Regions from separate parts of the Homo sapiens genome. Here region 2 is linked to region 1. The links come from fine-mapping of genetic effects on gene expression. A gene starts in region 1. The other region holds a variant in brackets. All regions are shown on one strand. Distances are from middle to middle. Region 1 holds the start of MIR762HG (MIR762 host gene). Region 2 overlaps ZNF785 (zinc finger protein 785).

What was found. PIP is the estimated chance that this variant, and not a neighbour inherited with it, causes the effect. A credible set is the group of variants that fine-mapping cannot tell apart.
Region 2: its variant is the best candidate, but not a certain one, in a credible set for the expression of MIR762HG in thyroid (GTEx, PIP 0.77).

What each region holds. Positions count from the first base shown.
Region 1 is chr16:30,871,104-30,881,095 of GRCh38, reverse strand. It overlaps MIR762HG (MIR762 host gene), which reads right to left and starts at 5,636. Exons shown (of 3, transcript NR_110942.1): 1 at 5,610-5,636; 2 at 4,978-5,066. It overlaps MIR4519 (microRNA 4519), which reads left to right and starts at 5,773; the gene lies at 5,773-5,830. It also overlaps a transcript of BCL7C not described here. RefSeq lists a silencer at 4,864-4,923 and enhancers at 5,244-5,293, 5,324-5,533, 4,843-5,597, 5,804-6,063, 5,598-6,352 and 1 more.
Region 2 is chr16:30,574,298-30,584,289 of GRCh38, reverse strand. It overlaps ZNF785 (zinc finger protein 785), which reads left to right. Exons shown (of 3, transcript NM_152458.7): 3 at 847-3,634. The coding sequence ends at 1,730. It also overlaps a transcript of ZNF688 not described here. Among named protein-coding and RNA genes, the nearest start is that of ZNF785, 6.4 kb to the left of the region's middle. The variant T/G (reference allele first, on the strand shown) is at 5,151.

The DNA of each region.
Region 1 (9,992 bases):
ACAGCCCAGTATTCATTCACAGGTTTTTTCCCCCGTCTTTGATGTAAAATATCTATATAGTAAAATGCATAGGTGTTAATTGCTTGATTCAGTGAATTTTAACAAAAGCATAGTGCCAGGTGCGGTGGCTCACTGGGAGGCCAAGGCAGGAAGGTCATTTGAGTCCAGAAGTTTAAGACTATCCTGGGCAACATAGTGAGACCTCATCTCTACAAAAACTTAAAAAAAAATTAGCCGGGCATGATGGTGCACACCTTTAGTTCCAGCTACTTGGGAGGCTGAGGTGAGAGGATCACTTGAGTCCAGAAGTTCAACACTGCAGTGAGCTATGATTGTACCACTGCACTCTAGCCTGGGCAACAGAGCAAGACCCTGTCTAAAAAAAATAAAAATAAAAATAAAACCAGAACAAAACAAATGCATACATCTGCATAAGGAAACTGTTCTCAAATACAAAACATCACTATCACTTGCCAGAAAGTTCCCGTTGCCCCCTTCTCATCTCCAACTCCCCAGAGTCAACCGCTGTTCTGACTTTTTTTTTTTTTTTTTGTATTTTTAGTAGAGACGGGGTTTCACCATGTTAGCCAGGATGGTCTCAATCTCCCGACCTCGTGATCCGCTCACCTCAGCCTCCCAAAGTGCTGGGATTACAGGCATGAGCCACCGCGCCCAGCCTGTTCTGACTTTTTTAATAAGACAGGGCCTTGATCTGCTGTCCAGTGTGGAGTGCAGTGGCATGTTCACAGCTCACTAATTTTTTTTTGTATTTTTTGCAGAGACGGGGTCTCACCATATTGCCCAGGCTGGTCTTGAACTCCTGGGCTCAAGCGATCCACCTACCTCTGCCTCCCAAAGTGCTGGGATTACAGGTGTGAGCCATGCACACAGCCTTTTTGTTGTTGTTCAAACAACTTTAATGATGCCACAATGTCTGTCCTCCCCCAAGTAACTGGGTAAAGTGTTTTTTTTTGTTTGTTTGTTTTAGATCATAGCTCACTGCAGCCTTGAACTCCTGGGCCCAAGTGATCCACCTAAGCTTCCCGAGTAGCTGGGACCACAGGCATGTGCTACTGCGCCCAACTACTTAACATTTTTTTTTTTTTGAGACGGAATCACGCTCTGTCACCCAGGCTGGAGTGCAGTGGCGTGATCTTGGCTCACTGAAAGCTCTGCCTCCCGGGTTCACGCAATTCTCCTGCCTCAGCCTCCCAAGTAGCTGAGACTACAGGTGCCTGCCACCATGCCCAGCTAATTTTTTTGTATTTTTAGTAGAGATGGAGTTTCACCATTTTAGCCAGGATGGTCTCGATCTCCTGACCTCGTGATCCGCCCGCCTCAGCCTCCCAAAGTGCTGGGATTACAGATGTGAGCCACCGTGCCCAGTTTTTTTTTTTTTTTTTTTTGTAGAGAAGGGGAGTCTCTCTGTGTTGCCTAGGCTGGTCTGGAACTCCTGGCCTCAAGGGATCCTCCTGGCCTCACAAAGTGCTGGGATTACAGGCGTGAGCCACCACACCTGGCCTGATTGTTTTAAAGTAACGGATTGGGTGAACCTGTTCTGGAACTTCATGTAAATAGAATTAAGCAGTATGTAACTCTTTTGCATCTGTTTTCTTTTACTCAGGCTAATATTCTTGAGGGTCATCCGGATTATTGTGTGAATCAGTAGTTTGTTCCTTTTTACTGCTAAATTATATTCCATAGGCCAGGATCACTCTGCTGGGTGGAGAAGAGATGGGCCCTGCCAGGGCTCAGAGACTCAGGTGAATGCACCACAGGGAGATGGACAGCCTTTTCTTAGGAATTTCTAGAATGCGAAGTCTGTGGCATCAGTCTCCCCAAAAATCTGGGAAAACAGAACTACATCAGGAGAATCTAGCATGACCAAGCATCCCTGTTTGCCCAGGACTTTCTTGGTTTTAGCACTGCAGGTTCCATGTCCCAGGAGACACCCCAGTCTTGAGCAAACTGGGATGGCTGATCACCATCACCCTAGCAGGATCCTGCCACTGCCCTTGGGGCTTCCGGACCCTTTTCACACAAGATTACATTCTGTTCCTCCTACAGAATGATTTTCCTTAAACTCTAAACTGGGCTCCTCTCCTGTTCTAAAACTTCCCATGGCTCCCCATGGCTGAGCCTGGCAACTGAAAGCACGTAGTCTCTGGTAGTGTGCATACTGGAATCACCTGGGGAATCATTTAAATATTCTGATGGCTGCCTTCTACCCTTGACATTTTTTTTTTTTTTTTTGAGACGGAGTCTCGCTTTGTCACCCAGGCTGGAGTGCAGTGGCACGATCTCAGCTCACTGCAACCTCTGCCTCCCGGGTTCAAGTGATTCTTCTGCCTCAGCCTCCTGAGTAGCTGGGATTACAGGTGCGTGCCACCACGCCCAGCTAATTTTTGTATTTTTAGTAGAGACTGGGTTTCACCATGTTGGTCAGGCTGGTCTCAAGCTCCTGACCTCGTGATCCACCCACCTCGGCCTCCCAGAGTGCCAGGATTACAGGCGTGAGCCACCACGCCCAGCCACCCCAGACATTTTTGTTTTTTTTGAAATAGAGTCTCGCTCTGTCGCCCAGGCTGGAGTGCAGTGGCACGATCTCGGCTCATTGCAACCTCTGCCTCCTGGGTTCAAGTGATTCTCCTGCCTCAGCCTCCCGAGTAGCTGGGACTACAGGCGCGTGCCACCACACCCAGCTAATTTTTTTAAATTTTTTTATTTTTAGTAGAGACGGGGTTTCACCGTGTTAGCCAGGATGGTCTCAATCTCCTGACCTTGTGATCCGTCTCCCTCGGCCTCCCAAAGTGCTGGGATTACAGGCATGAGCCACCACACCCGGCCCCACCCCAGACATTTTACATTGGTATCATGTGCAACCTGGGCCCTGGGATTTTTTGTTTTGTTTTGTTTTTTTGAGTCTTGAGTTTAGCTCTATCGCCCAGGCTGCAGTGCAGTGGCATGATCTTGGGTCACTGCAACCTCCGCCTCCCAGGTTCAAGCCATTCTCGTGCCTCAGCCTCCCAAGTAGCTGGGATTACAGGTGCCTGCCACCACACCCGGCTAATTTTTGTATTTTTAGTAGAGATGGGGTTTCACCATGTTGTCCAGGCTGGTCTCGAACTCCTGACCTCAGGTGATCCACCCGCCTTGGCCTCCCAAAGTGCTGAGATTACAGGCATCAGCCACTGCGCCCGGCCAAGGGCCCTGGGATTTTTACAAGCTCCTCAGGTGATGCTAACATGCTGCAAAGCTTGGAGCTGTGAGCCTGTGAATGTGATTTGTTTGGCTTACATGGTGTTGAACATGTTGGCAACATTAAAATCAAGTGATTTCATATAAAAATCTGGACTAGGCTGGGCGCGGTGGCTCACGCCTGTAATCCCAGCACTTTGGGAGGCCGAGGCGGGTGGATCACGAGGTCAGGAGATCGAGACCATCCTGGCTAACACGGTGAAACCCCATCTCTACTAAAAATACAACAAATTAGCTGGGCGCGGTGGCGGGTGCCTGTAGTCCCAGCTACTCGGGAGGCTGAGGCAGGAGAATGGCCTGAACCCAGGAGGCGGAGCTTGCAGTGAGCCGAGATAGTGCCACTGCACTCGGGCCTGGTGAAAGAGCGAGACTCCGTCTCAAAAAAAAAAAAAAAATCTGGACTCAGGCCGGGTGACGTGCCTCACACTGTAACCCCAGCACTTTGGGAGGCTGAGGCAGGAGGACTGCTTGAGCCTAGGAGTTGAGGCTACAGTGAGCTATGTGTTGCTACCCTTCAACCTGCGCGACAGAGCAAGATCCTGTCTCTACCAAAAATAAAAAAAGAAATCTGGACTCCAGCTACCCTTGAAAGCAGATATTCTGAGATACTGAGTTTGCCTCCTGGAGTGGTCATGGGGCGGAGGTTGGTGGGGTAGGGGGGTAGGGGGTGCAGAACACTGACTGCCCTGGGGGCGGAGTCTCTGCCCTTCAGTCCCCGCAATCCCTACCGCTCCCTGGTGTTCCACTCTCCTCCTTGCTGTTCACTTGCATGGCCTCCAGGCTAATGGCTGAGTTTTGCGGCCAGGCATTTCAGGCCTCCCAGCCTTGGCCTCTGCTCACCTTCTCCACCTCCTCACTCCCTGCTCTAGTCATCTTCATCTCATGTCCTGCCCTCCAGCCACATGGGCTTCTTGGTCCCTTCCACACCTGTTTTTGCCCATGGAGTTCTCCCACCAAGTTCCTTATGGTAGAAAAGCCCCTGCTGGATTTGGCCCCTGCCCACCTCTCCTGCCCCTTTCCCCAAGCTTTCTTCCAACTCATGCATAGAACTTCTACCACAAGGAAGCTGGCCAGGCTGTTAGCACTCCCGTTCCCTCTGTCTGTGAAGCCCTTTCCTTCCCTCCACCCTCCCCTTCTCTCTCTTATCTCAGGCTTTGGGTTTGATTTCACCTCCTCCAAGGTTCCCTGACCTTCAAACTAGGTCAGGTCCCTGGTTAGTCACTATACTTCCTCTTTCTCACCTCCTTCATCTCACTTCCCCTGCTAGAATAAGGCCACATCTGTCTCATAATCTCTGTCTTCCTAGGGCCTAGTGTGGTGCCTGGCATACAGTAGGTGCTCATTAATGATAAATGAATGAAAGCAAGCACATCTCCCTTTCTCTACTGGCAAAATCCTAATCCTTTTCTGGTTACATTTCTCCTGTAGCATCCAATTCTGTTCTCGAGACCCAAAAGATCCCTGAGGTCCTGTGATCAATGGAGTTTTAGCTCAGGTCCATTTCACAGTGGGCCCAGGGGATCCCCAGATTCATCCGTGGTTATTTCCCCAGGCACAGAGTGAGTGCACTGGTGGCACAGGCATACCCAGCAAGTGGCATAATCCCCCCCATTAGTTAACTGGGTGTCGCTGTGCATGGCTGTGAAGGCAGGGATGCACCTGGCTGGTGACCCCAGAACCCCTCCGGGTACGGCACAAGGGCAGAGCCCAAGAACTTACTTTCTGTCCTCTTGCATTTGCCTGTGGATTTGCAGTTGGTAATGGCGTTCTTGCCCGGCCCTCCTTTGTTCCTCCAGGCAGCCAGGCAGCTGTGGCGTAGTGAAAGGGCAGGATGCGGGATAGGAATGGAGTTATTCCTGATTCAGACTGATTTGCTCTAACTGTGATTTGGGGCAAGTCCCTTCCCCTGTCTAGACCTTAGCTGGCTGCCGCATCTAAAAAATGGAGCCAATAATCTTTTCCTCGTCTTTGGGGTCATCCATCTTTCAACCACATCAGGAGCAGCGGGAACCAAGTGCAGAGGATGGCCTTAAAAGCAGTATGGGAACCAAATTTTTGTAAAGTAAATATTTTCAACCTTTATATTTTGGAATCACCAGCGGTATTTATTACGTGCACTCTAGGAAATGGAGGCAATGCAATGCCAAAAACAGAAAGTAAAACTGCTGTCCTGTGCCGCGGCCCGGTGGAGGTTTTAATGTCTGTATCTTAAGATCTGGTGAGGGCACGGGTAGGTGCGGCTGGACTGAGTGAAACCAGCCCCGCTGGGCGCCTGGGCCCTTGTCTCAGGGCTGTGCTCGCAGTGGAGGCATCTGCAGCTCGGCACCCAGAGGCCCCGCGACCCTTCCAACCTTTGTGACGCTCCGCGGAGACAAAGGCCGGCGGCGCAGCCTTGGGAAGGGTTAAGGCCACAGACGCAGCCCTGCGCGTGCTAGAGCGGCCGGTGGCGGACTTCCGGTTGGGGCGCGGGCGCGCGCCGCGTGTTCCCGACCCGCCGAGGCTGAGACCTCGGGCAACCTCAGCAGTGCGCAGGGCTGCACTGTCTCCGTCTGCGGCCTGCAGTAAGCGGGTAGGGGATATGTCGCGTGGCCTCGCCTGGTCTGCGGCGGGAAACTCGCATCTAGGCCAGACCCTCCCGCAGGGTCCGCACTCGCGATCTGGGCTGTGGGCAGCATCGTGGCCCCTCGGGGCGTTATAGGGGCGTGAGGATCCCGGGCGAGCTGGGGGCGGGCGGCTTCTTCAGCTCCCTTGCGCCATGGAACCCACTGTATGCCCGTTATGCAGTCAGGAAAGATGAGGCCGGGAAGGAGGGCGTTACGCTGCAACCCCGGAGACCAGCTGTCCCTCGCGTTGCCGCAGTCGGCAGAGGCGTGGCCGGAGCCATTCCCGGTCTCCAGTGCGGCTGCAAGAGCGGGCGCCCGAGGGCGTTCTGCTCCGGGCCTCCACCCGCGAGCTGACCGTGTCAGGCGCGCCACACACGGCGCTTCTCATTCTCTCTCCACCTCGCGAGGCAGAAGCTGCCGTTCCCGTGTCACAGACAGAAAAACAGTCTGGGGTGATTTATCCGGAGTCAAGACTCAGGTCTGTGGCTCAGTCGGGAAGGATAGAAACCCAAGCTTCCTCCGAATGGTTCAGAGACCCGACCAAGTTAAATAATAATGGCCCTGGCTCAGGGGTCTTTAAGTCTTCCCCCCGCCCTCCCCTTTTGTTTTTGTTTTGTTTTGAGACCGCCTCACTGTCCCCCAGGCTGGAGTGCAGCGGTGCGATCTCCGCTCACTGCAGCTTCGACCTCCCGAGGGCTCAGGTGATCCTCCCACCTCAACCTCAGGAGTGTCTGGGACTACAAACACGCGCCACCACGCCCGGCTAATTTTTCTGTTTTTTGTAGAGTCAGGATCTCGCTATGTTGTCCAGGCTGGTCTGGAACTCCTGGGCTCAAGCGATCCTCCTGCCTCGGCCTCTGAAAGTGCTGGGATTACAGGCATGAGCCACCGCACCTGGCTACCCTTTAATTAACTCAAGGAGTTTAATAATTGAATTTAGGCTGGGCTCAGTGGCTCACGCCTGTAATCCTAGCACTTTAAGAGGCCACGTCGGGCAGATCACTTGAGGTCAGGAGTTCAAGACCAGTCTGGCCAACATGGTGAAACCCTGTCTCTACTAAAAATACAAAAATTAGACGGATGTGGTGCCACACACCTGTAATCCCAGCTACTCGGGAGGCTGAGGCAGGAGAATCCCTTGAACCCGGGAGGCAGAGGTTGCAGTGAGCCAAGATCGCACCACTGCACTCTAGCCTGGGCCACAGAGCAAGAATCTGTCTCAAAAAAAAAAAAAAAGGTTTGACACCTATACCTTCCTCTGTGTGTGTGTGTGTGTGTGTATACATATATCTATATATATATGTATATAGAGAGAGGAGGAAAAATTATATAATTTTTCTATATGTGTGTGTGTGTATATATATCTGTACAATTTTTTTTTTTTTTGAGACAGTGTAGCTCTGTGGCCCAGGATGGAGTGCAGGGACTCGATCTCGGCTCACTGCAACCTCCGCCTCCCAGGTTCAAGCGATTCTCCTGCCTCAGCCTCCCGAGTAGCTGGGATTACAGGCTGCTGCTACCATGCCTGGGTAATTTTTGTATTTTTAGTAGAGACAGGGTTTTGCTATGTTGCCCAGGCTGGTCTGGAACTCCTGAGCTCAAAAGTGATCTGCCTGCCCCAGCCTCCCCAAATGCTGGGATTACAGGTCTGAGCCATCACACCCGGCCCATATATACGTATTTTAAAATAACACCTTTACTGAGAGAGATGACTCACACACCATACAACTCACCCATTTAAAGTGTACAGTTCAATGATTCTTAGTATCTTCACAGTTTTGCAAATATCACCACAGTCAATTTTAGAACATTTTCATTACCCCTAAAAGAAACCATACCCATTAACAGTAACTCCCAAGCCTTCCTCCCACTACAGCTCTAGACTACTGCAAATCTACTTTCTGTCTCTATAGAGTTGATTATTTTGGACATTTCATATTAGGGCTTTATGTGGCCTTTTTTGACTGAGATAACCTTTTTGTTGTTGTTTTTAACAAAATCAACTCCTTGAGCTCAGAGCCCTGGCCTATAATCATAGCCAGCTAGAACTGAACAGCATTGTTTTGGTTTTATTGTATCTATTTTTACCACTCTTGGGTACATGATAATTTCTCATTTATGGCAGTGGTTAAAGTTTCCTTTTGAATACACCTAGTTCCATCAAAACGTGAGTTGATAATTTTTAAAGAACAAGATTAAGTAAACAGAAGTAGAGGTGGTCCACAAATTTGTCAGAGGTTGGGAAGATGGGATGTGAATGAAGTTTGGCAAACACTGGATTGTCTGATTTACGGTTCTCCAGGTCATCATTTGAAAACCACCCTCACCTTATTCTTTCATTGCATTTTCCTGACAACTCCTGTAAAGAAGTGCATGATTTTACCGATGAAGAAACAGGTTCAGAGAAGTCAGGTACAATTACTTGTCCAGTGTCACACAGCTAGTGACAGAAGCTAGGCTTAACCAAGTCTGTCTGATTGCCAAAACTACCTACTTACCAAGTCTGGAAGTAGGATAGGGGGTGGGGAATGGACTAGCAGGCTTGAGAGGGGACTCTGGCCACTACCCAAAACATGCGGGCACCAGGCTGCCTGAGTTGTTTTGGGTACCTCTTCTAACAAATATTCAAATATTTCTATGAAACAATTTATGACTCTAAACAGAAATCCCATCTCATTTGCCACTGGGGCTTTCACCCTCTCTCAACGGCACACCGCAGTTCAGGAAGTGCTGCCTGCCTGGAGAATGAGGGTGTGTGTGAACGTGCGTGCTGGTGGTGAGGAGAGTCTGATCTCTAGTTCATCTTGGTTGCTACTGGCATCACTTTCCAAGCCCACAGGGGTCCCTTACACTCCATGACTTCTGCCCTATTCCACCTGTGGGCACCAGAGTCTCTAGGCTGGCTGGGATTACCTGCATATAGGGTCCCATGTTTCTGGAATGTCAGGCCGCCACCTGCTCTCAGGACTGACCACTTTCCTGGAGCACAGCCGCAGGGTATTCACCATGACTCCCTCTCTCCCCTTCCTGGCCAAGGACTTTCCCACCTCTTGCCATCATCTTCATCAGAACTCTGCCTCCTCCCTCAGACCCTATTCCTCATCTTATTCTTTCCCTGTGGGCTTTAACTGACCATTAAATTCAGAACCCATTCCAATAACACGAATATCCTTTTCCAGAGAGAGCTTAATTTTATACCTTAATTTTTGAAATTATAGCATATAGAAGATAAGCAAAACAACCAGGTCCTGCCATGCTCTTGTTCAACACCGATTTAACTCAGTCCACCTCTCTCACAGCTGTGCAATTCAACTTGACCCAAACTTGAGGCTAAGCACCTCCAGACAGGATGATTAGGGTCCATCTGGTCTCACTCAACTTAGGTGAGAATCTCAACCCTAAATCCAAGCAATTATCTGAGTAATTCTGGACCCTATAAAACAAAATAGTGGCCGGGTGCGATGGCTCACACCTGTAATCCCAGCACTTTGGGAGGCCAAGGTAGGCAGATCACCTGAGGTCAGGAGTTCAAGACCAGCCTGGCCAACATGGTGAAACCCTGTCTCTACTAAAAATGCAAAAATAAGCCAGGTGTGGTGGTGCCTGCCTGTAGTCCCAGCTACTCAGGAGGCTGAGGCAGGAGAATCACTGGAACCCGGGAGGTGAAGGTTGCAGTGAGCCAAGATCGTACCACTGCACTCCAGCCTGGGCGACAGAGTGAGACTCAGTCTCAAAAAAAAAAGCTAACATTGAGCTAGGTGAATATTCTCAGAGCACTACATGCATAATCTTACAAAATCATTTCAATAACTTAGTGAGGTAAGTACTCTTATTATTTCCACTTGACAGATGAGAAAAGCAAGGCACAGAGAAGTGAAGTCACTTGTCCCATAGTATATAATAGAGGCAGATCTGAATCCGTATCATCTGACTTCAGAGTGTGTACCCTCAAACACAGAGTTCAGATGAGGCTAACTCCAGCCATCGTTTACAGCAGCATTTCAGTGTTCCCTATACGCTGTCCCCCTCCTAAGTCAGTTTCTAGCTACTTGGGAAGCAGAGTTGGGGATTCCTCTTCCCAGAGATCCAGAGTCGGAGCACCCCAAGACCTGGATCTCCCACTCAGGACAC
Region 2 (9,992 bases), 300 kb after region 1:
ATTGAATGGCTGTTTTGTAAAGGGATCATAAACAGGTTCAGGATGGTAAGTGCCATGAGGACTGGGACCATCACTGTGTCCTCAAAGCCTGACACAGAGTTAAGCGTTCAATATTGTTCACTCCTTTTTCTTTTTTTATTTTTTTGAGACTGAGTCTTGCTGTGTCGCCCATGCTGGAGTGCAGTGGCACGAGGTTGGCTCACTGCAACCTCCACCTCCCCAGTTCCAGGGATTCTCCTGCCTCAGCCTCCCAAGTAGCTGGGATTACAGGCGCCCACCACCTCGCCTGGCTAATTTTTGTAATTTAGTACAGACAAGGTTTCCCCATGTTGGCCAGGCAGGTCTCGAACTCCTGACCTCAGGTGATCTGCCCACCCCAGCCTCCCAGAGTGGTGCTGGGATTACAGGCATGGGCCACCACGCCCAGCATTTTTTTTTTTTTTTATTAGAGAGTTGCCCAGGCTGGAGTGCAGTGGCCCGATCACAGCTCACTGTCCCTTGAATTTCTGGCCTCAAGCGATCCTCCCACCTCAGCCTCCTGAAGTGCTTGGATAACAGGTGTGAGCCATGGCACCCGGCCCGACTCCTCTTTCATTATCTCCAGTGCTCAGGGCCTTCTTGTGTTAACCTGCAGACCATGGCATTTGCTTTTACTCCAGGCTGGCTTTCAGGGCTTCATGAGGCCCCTATCATTAAGCCGTGCTCCCTGGGCGCCATATTCTGAACCATTCCTGCTGCCTTCCAAGGCAGGACATGGTCCCGGAATATGCTGGTTTTGACTTTATCATCTTTCCTGTCTCAGGATCCAGGGATGAGTTTCTGATTTTATCATCTTCCCTGTTTCAGGATCCAGGGATGGGAATGAGGAGAAGGAAAGGCTGAAGAAGTGTCCAAAACAAAAAGAGGTGGCGCATGAAGTGGCTGTCAAGGAGTGGTGGCCCAGCGTCGCCTGCCCAGAGTTCTGCAACCCTAGGCAGAGCCCCATGAATCCCTGGCTCAAGGACACTCTGACCCGAAGACTGCCCCACTCTTGCCCAGACTGTGGCCGCAACTTCAGCTACCCTTCCCTCCTGGCCAGCCACCAGCGGGTCCACTCCGGGGAGCGGCCCTTCTCCTGCGGCCAGTGTCAGGCGCGTTTCTCCCAGCGCAGGTACCTGCTCCAGCATCAGTTCATCCACACCGGCGAGAAGCCCTACCCCTGCCCCGACTGCGGGCGCCGCTTCCGCCAGAGGGGTTCCCTGGCTATCCACAGGCGGGCTCACACCGGGGAGAAGCCTTACGCGTGCTCAGACTGCAAGAGTCGCTTCACTTACCCCTACCTGCTGGCCATCCACCAGCGCAAGCACACGGGCGAGAAGCCCTACAGCTGCCCCGATTGCAGCCTCCGTTTCGCCTACACCTCCCTGCTGGCCATCCACAGGCGCATACACACCGGCGAGAAGCCCTACCCCTGTCCTGACTGCGGCCGCCGCTTCACCTATTCTTCCCTCCTCCTCAGTCACCGGCGCATTCACTCCGACAGCCGGCCCTTCCCCTGCGTGGAGTGTGGGAAAGGCTTCAAGCGCAAGACCGCCCTGGAAGCCCATCGGTGGATCCACCGCTCCTGCAGCGAGAGGCGCGCGTGGCAGCAGGCCGTGGTGGGGCGTTCAGAGCCCATCCCTGTTTTGGGAGGCAAGGATCCCCCAGTTCACTTCCGGCACTTTCCAGATATATTTCAAGAGTGTGGGTGATGGCGTTCACACAAACTGGTCAGCGTTTCCCTGGAGAGGAAGAGGCAAGGTTTGTGTATTTGGGGGATAAGGAAAGGAAGTGGGCGTTTGAGGAAAACAAAGTTCTGCCTTAGGTAAAAAGCAGAGGTAGGGGCACAGAGGGCTGTGGGGAGGAGGCAGGAATCTGAAAAGGTGCCTGGGGGTTGACCCCATTTTCTGAAGCTCCAGCACACAGGGCCCCGTGTTCACGTCCCATCCTTCACTGAAAACCATTCACCTAACTGGCTTTTCCTTCATGATTGTTCTCTCCCTTGTAGCTCTCTGCTTTTTGGCCTGTATCTCTCCTACTCCTCTGAGATGGGGTCCCCTACATTCCAGTGCCTATTAAAGGAGCCTGCACCCACTCTGGACCCCCCAGAATAGAGGGGATACCTCAGGCCTGTCCCTCGGCTGGTGGGGGGGGCGGAGCTCATCCCAGGATTCTTTTCTTTTTTTTGAGATGGAGTCATGCTCTGTCGCCCAGGCTGGAGTGCAGTGGCGTGATCTCGGCTCACTGCAACCTCTGCCTCCTGGGTTCAAGCCATTCTCTGCCTCAGCCTTCCCATTAGCTGGGATTACAGGCATGCGCCACCAGGCCCAGCTAATTTTTGTGCTGTTAGTAGAGACGGGGTTCCACCATCTTGGCCAGGCTGGTCTTGAATTCCTGACCTCGTGATCCACCCGCCTCGGCGTCTCAAAGTGCTGGGATTACAAGCGTGAGCCACCGACCCCTGCCGAGGATTCTGCCTTTTACCAATGCAGGTGAAACATCTGGCAAGGAGACACCTGGAGTGTAGGTGTTCCTTGGTCTTGAAGACCTAGAGGTGGCCATAGAGAGGACAGTGGCCTCAGGTGGGGAACTCCCCCCCCACTCTCATTCTGCAAGTGCACAAACTATCAAACATAGCGGACTCTGGAACTGGGCCAACTCTTCACTGTATGCATTAGTGATTGCAGTGTTTTTTTCTTCTTCAGATATTTGCATGTTCCCTGGATTTTGTATTTTTTGATAAAGATATATTCTTGGGCCACAGTAGCTGGAGATATAATGCCGGAGGATTCTTTTTTTTTTTTTTTTTTTTGAGACAGAGTCTGTCTCTATTGCCTGGGCTGGAGTGCAGTGGCCCAAGCTACGCTCACTGCAAGCTCCACCTCCTGGGTTCACACCATTCTCCTGCTTCAGTCTCCCGAGTAGCTGGAATTACAAGCACCCGCCACCACGCCCAACTAATATTTTGTATTTTTAGTAGAGACGGGGGTTTCACCGTGTTAGCCAGGATGGTCTCGATCTCCTGACTTCGTGATCCTCCCGCCTCGGCCTCCCAAAGTGCTGGGATTACAGGCGTGAGCCACTGCACCCAGCCTCTTTTTTTTTTTGAGATGGAGTTTCGCTCTTGTTGCCCAGGCTAGAGTGCAATGGCATGATCTTGGCTCACTGCAACCTCCGCCTCCTAGGTTCAAGCGATTCTCCTGCCCCAGCCTCTTGAGTAGCTGGGATTACAGGCACCCACGACCATGCCTGGCTAATTGCATTTTTACTAGAGACAGGTTTCACCATGTTGGCCAGGCTGGTCTCCAATTCCTGACCTCAGGTGATCCACCCGACTTGGCCTCCCAAAGTTCTGGGATTACATTTTTTTTTTAAAGAAAGAATAAATTAATTGTGATTAAAGTTGAAATCAAGGCATAGTCTTTCCAGTCTAATTTTTACTGTAATGCTTGTATGTCAACAGTTATGAAGGCCAGGCGCGGTGGCTCACGCCTGTAATCCTAGCAGTTTGGGAGGCTGAGGAGGGTGGATCACTTAAGGTCAAGAGTTCAAGACCAGCCTGGCCAATATGGTGAAACCCCATCTCTACTAAAAATACCAAAAAAAAAAAAAAAAACGGCCAGGCACGTTGGCTCACACCTGTAATCCCAGCACTTTGGGAAGCCGAGGCGGGCAGATCACGAGGTCAGAAGATCGAGACCATCCTGGCTAACATGGTGAAACCCCGTCTGTACTAAAAATACAAAAAAATTAGCCAGGAGTGGTGGCAGGTGCCTGTAGTCCCAGCTACTTGGGAGGCTGAGGCAGGAGAATGGCGTGAACCCGGGAGGCGGAGCTTGCAGTGAGCCGAGACTGCGCCACTGCACTCCAGCCTGGGTGACAGAGCGAGACTCCGTCTCAAAAAAAAAAAAAAAAAATTAGCCAGGCCTGGTGGCGTGCACCTGTAATCCCAGCTTCTTGGGAGGCTGAGGCAGAAGAATGGCTTGAACCCAGGAGGTGGAGGTTGCAGTGAGCCAACATAGCGCCACTGCACTCCAGCCTGGGCAACAGAGCAAGACTCTATCTCAAAAAAAAAAAAAAAAAAAGGCCTGGTGTGGTGGCTCACGCCTGTAATCCCAGCACTTTGGGAGGCTGAGGTGGGTGGATCACGAGGTCAGGAGATCAAGACCATCCTGGCTCACACAGTGAAACCCCATCTCTACTAAAAATACAAAAAATTATCCGGGCATGGTGGCGGGCGTCTGTAGTCCCAGCTACTGGGGAGGCTGAGGCAGGAGAATGGCATGAACCCGGGAGGCGGAGCTTGCAGTGAGCTGAGATCGCGCCACTGCACTCCAGCCTGGGCGACAAAGTGAGACTCCAGTCTCAAAAAACAAAACAAAACAAAAAACAACAGTTAAGAGAGTTCTTTCTGGCCCATTTAGATCTGCTAGCCCTACTTTTGAAGAGGAAACTTTTGAAGGAATGAACAAAAGAGGTAGGTGGGACTAAGCATTTCTGCATTCCAGGACTGGTGGTCAGTGACTCAAATATCTCTTTGAAAAGACTGCTTCTTTGAATCCTTGGGTTCCAAGATAATTAATGGGAACTGGTGCCGGGCACGGTGGCTCACACCTGTGATCCCAGCACTGTGGGAGGCTGAGGCTGGTTAATCACTTGAGGTCAGGAGTTTGAGACCAGCTGGGCAATATAGTGAAACCCCATCTCTACCAAAAAATTAGCCAGGCGTGGTGGCACATGCCTGTAGTCCCAGCTACTCAGGAGGCTAAGGCAAGAGGATCACTTGAGCCTGGGAGACAGAGGTTGCAGTAAGCTGAGATGGCTCCATTGCACTCCAGCCTGGGCTACAAAGCAGGACTCTGTCTCAAAACAAAAACAGATACAAAAACTGGGAACGGGGTGTTATCTTTACTTCACCACATAGCCTCTCCTGAATTGGTGGACCTGGATTCCTAGCTTGGCTCAGTCCCCACTGGCTGTGTGGCCTTTAGCATCACCTAGATTCTACAAATAACATTTTTCTCTATTTGTTTTACACATGTCAATCTGCCTATCCATCCCTCTATCCATTCATTTATCCATTTTATTAATGTATTTCAAAGTAAGTTGCAGACATCATTACATTTCACTTC[T/G]AAACACTTCAGCATACAGCTGAGTTTTATGCAAGAAACTTAAGCTCTCAGCTGGGTACAGTGGCTCACACCTGTAATCCCAGCACTTTGGGAGGCTGAGGCAGGAGGATTGCATGAGATTGGGAGTTTGAGACGAGCCTGGAAAACAGCAAGACCTCATTTCTACTAAAAATTTTAAAAATTAGCCGAGCATGGTGGGGGAGGGTGAAGAAGGAGGATAGCTTGAGCCCAGGAGTTTGAGGCTATAGTGAGCTATGATGGCGCCACTTCAGTCTGAGTAACAGCAAGACACTATTAAAAAAAAAAAAGAGCCAGGCGCAGTGGCTCACACCTGTAATCCCAGCACTTTGGTAGGCCAAGGTGGGCAGATCACCTGAGGTCAGGAGTTTGAGACCAGCCTGACGAACATGGAGAAACCCTGTCTCTACTAAAAAAAAAGAAATACAAAATTAGCCAGGCATGGTGGCACATGCCTGTAATCACAGCTACTCGGGAGGCTGAGGCAGGAGAATCGTTTGACCCCAGGAGGCGGAGGTTGCAGTGAGCCAAGATCGTGCCATTGCACTCCAGCCTGGGCAACAAGAGTGGAACTCTGTTTCAAAAAAGAAAGAAAGAAATTCAGCTCCCACTTAAAGTTCAGTTGTACTCTGTTATTGACAAGTAAAGTCGATTGAAGCCCAGTCATCTCCTGTATGTTGTGTGACTTCTCATAATTATCTGATCAAGAGTCTTGAAGAAACATTTACAATTTGATGGGCAATAAAATAATTTGAAAGCAAGAGCATTTTGTTGTTCTTGTTATTTCTTGAGACAGGGTCTCACTATAGCCTAGGCTGGAATGCAGTGGCACAGTCACGGCTCACTGCAGCCTCGACCTCCTGGGCTCAGGTGTTTCTCGTTCTCATCTCAGCCTCTTGAGTAACTGGGACTACAGGCATATGCCACTATGCCCAGCTAATTTTTGTATTTTTTGTACAGATGGGGTTTTGCCCAGGCTGGTCTTGAACTCATGGGCTCAAGTGATCTGTCTATCTGAGCCTCCCAAAGTGGTAGGATTACAGGTGTTAGCCACTGTGCCCGGCCAATTTTTGTATTTTTATAATGAGTGGCAGGAAAAACAACTCATCAGCTACACGGAACAGTTTTAGTCTTACTTGAAAGTTTGTTTCAGGCCTGGCGCTATGGCTCATACCTGTAATCCCAGCACTTTGGGAGGCCGAGGACGGTGGATCACTTGAAGCCAGGAGTTTGAGACCAGCCTGGCCAACATGGCAAAACCCCATCTCTACTAAAAATACAAAAATTAGCAGGTTGTGCTGTTTTCAGCTACTTGGGAGGCTGAGGCACGAGAATTGCTTGAACTCGGGAGGCAGAGGTTGCAGTGAGCCGAGATTGTACCACTGCACTCCAGCCTTGGCCACAGAGTGAGACTCTGTCTTAAAAAAAAAAAAAAACCACAGGCCGGGTACAGTGTGCAGTGGCTCATGTCTGTAATTCCAGCACTTTGGGAGGCCAAGGCAGGCGGATCACGAGGTCAGGAGATCAAGAGCATCCTGGCCAACATGGTGAAACCCTGTCTCTGCTAAAAATACAAAAACTGGGTGTGGTGATGCGTGCCTGTAATCCCAGCTACTCAGGAGGCTGAGGCAAGAGAATCGCTTGAACCAGGGAGTTGGAGGTTGCAGTGAGCCAAGATCCCACTACTGCACTCCAGCCTGGCGACAGAGCGAGACTCCATCTAAAAAAAAAAAAAAAAAAGTTTCTTTCAATCTGTTTAGTTAATATTTTTATTGTTCAGCTTCATCTTCTTAAGTCTTCTGCATACTTAGTTCAAAGAGAAGTGATTTACAACATAGGATCTGAAGAAACAAAAGTATTTTTGGTTCAAGTTGCTACTCTGTTTAAAAGGAGAATCCAAATAGCCACTCACCTGTAGTCTTAGCTACTCAGGAGGTGGAAGTGGGAGCATAGATCACTTGAGCCCAAGAGTTCCAGGCTGCAGTGAGCTTTGATCTTGCCACTGCACCCCAACCTGGGTGACAGAGTGAGACTCTGTTTCAAAATGACAATAATAGGCTGGGCATGGTGGTCCACACCTGTAATCCTAGCACTTTGGGAGGCTGAGGTGGGAGGATCACTTGAGCCCAGGAGTTCCAGACCAGCCTGGGTATCATGGAGAGACCCCATCTCTACAAAAACGAAAATTAGCCAGGCATGGTGTTGCACACTTCTAGTTCCAACGACTTGAAGGCTGAGGTGGGAGGATCACCTGAACCCAGGGAGGTTGAGGCTGCAGTGAGCTGTGATCATACCACTGCACTCCAGCCTGTGTGACAGAGTGAGAACCTGTCTCAATAATAATGATAATTAATAATAATAATCATAATAGAAGGAGAATCAAAATAAAACATGCAGATGGTCAACAGGTACATGAAAAAATGCTCAACACCACTAATCATCAGGGAAATGCAAATCAGAACTACAATGAAGCCGGCCTGGTGGCTCACGCCTATAATCCCAGCAGCTTAGGAGGCCGAGGTGGGCGGATCACCTGAGGTCAGGAGTTTGAGATCAGCCTTCCCAACATGGTGAAACTCCATCTCTACTAAAAATACAAAAATTAGCTGGGTGGCTGGGCGCGGTGGCTCACGCCTGTAATCCCAGCACTTTGGGAGGCCGAGGTGGGTGGATCATGAGGTCAGGAGATCGAGATCATCCTGGCTAACACAATGAAACCCCATCTCTTCTAAAAATACAAAAAATTAGCCGGCGTGGTGGCGGGCACCTGTAGTGCCAGCTACTCCAGAGGCTGAGGCGGGAGAATGGCGTTAGCCCGGGAAGCGGAGCTTGCAGTGAGCCAAGATCGCGCCACTGCACTCCAGCCTGGGCAACAGAGCGAGACTCCATCTCAAACAAACAAAAAAATTAGCTGGGCATGGTGGTGCACGTATGTAATCCCAGCTACTCAGGAGGCTGAGGCAGGAGAATCGGTTGAACCCAGGAGGGGGAGGTTGCAGTGAGCTGAGGTTGCGCCACTGCACTCCAGCCTAGGCTGCAGAGCGAGACTGACTCAAAAACAAAAAAGCACACAATGAGATATTATCGTACCTTAGTTAGAATGGCTGTTATTAAGAAGACAAAACATGACAGGTATTGGCAAGGATGCTAAGAGAAGGCAACTCTTGACTGGGCGCAGTGGCTCACGCCTGTAATCCCAGCATTTTGGGAGGCTGAGGTGGGTGGATCACCTGAGGTCGGGAGTTCAAGATCAGCCTGACCAACATGGAGAAACCTCATCTCTACTAAAAATGCAAAATTAGTCAGGAGTGGTGGCACGCGCCTGTAATCCCAGCTACTTGGGAGGCTGAGGCAGGAGAATCGCTTGAACCCTGGTGGCAGAAGTTGTGGTGAGCCAAGATTGTGCCATTGCACTCCAGCCTGGGCAACAAGAGTGAAACTCCTTCTCCAAAAAAAAAAAGAAAAAAAAAGAGAAGGGAACTCCTACACACTGTTGGTGGGAACGTAAGTTAGTACAGCCACTACTGAAAACAATATGGAGATGTCTGAAAAAAACAAAAACAGAACTACCATGTGGGCTGGGCATGGTGACTCACACCTGTAATCCCAGCACTTTGGGAGGCCAAGGCTGGTCGATCACCAGAGGTCAGAAGTTCACAATAGCCTAGCCAACATGGCAAAACCCCTTCTCTACTAAAAATACAAAATTTAGCTGGGTGTGATGGAGGGTGCCTGTAATCCCAGCTACTTGTGAGGCTGAGGCAGGAAAATCACTTGAACCTGGGAGGCAGAGGCTGCAATGAGCCGAGACCAGGGCATTGCACTCCAACCTAGACAACAAAAGCAAAACTCCGTCTCAAAAAAAAAAAAAAAGAACTACCATGTGATCCAGCAATCCCACTACCTGGAATTTATCCAAAGGAAAAGAAATCAGTATATAAAAAAGATAACCTGCATCTCCGTGTTTACTGTAGAGCCGTGTTTACAATAGCAAAGATATGGAATCAACCTAAGTGTTGATCAGGGGACAAATGAATAAAGAAAATATGATATATATACACAGTGGACTTAAGCCATAAAAAATGAAATCATGTTTACAGCATGGATGGAACTGGAGGTCATTATGTTAAGTGAATAAGCCAGACACAGAAAGGCAAATATCACATGTCCTCACTTACATGTGGGAGCTAGAAAAGTTGATCTCATGGAGGTAGAGAGTAGAATGATACCAGAGATTGGAAGGGTGTACGTGGGTGGGAGAGGTGGATGAAGAGAAGTTGGGTAATGGGTACAAACATACACTTAGGAAGAAGGGATAACTTGTAATGTTCAATAGCAGAGTAGGGTGACTGTAGTTAACAAAGTACTGTAAATTTCCATAGCTAGAAGAGAGGACTTGAAATTTTCCCAACACATAGAAATGTTAAATACTCAAAGTGATTGATACCTTAAATATCCTGACTTGATTATTGTACATTCTATGTATGAAGAAAAGCAAAATATCACATGAACTCCATAAATATGTAAAAATTTTGTGTATCAATATATTTTTTGTTTTGTTTGTTTTTTTTTTTTTTAGATGGAGTCTTGCTCTGTCACACAGGCTGGAGTGCAATGGTGTGATCTTGGCTCACTGCAACCTCTGCCTCCTGAGTTCAAGCCATTCTTGTGCCTCAGCCTCCTGAGTAGCTGGGACTACAGGCGTCCGACTCCACACCCAGCTAATTTTTGTATTTTTAGTACAGACGGGGTTTTGCCATGTTGGCCAGGCTGGTCTCGAACTCCTGACCTCAGGTGATCCTCCCGCCTTGGCCTCCCAAAGTG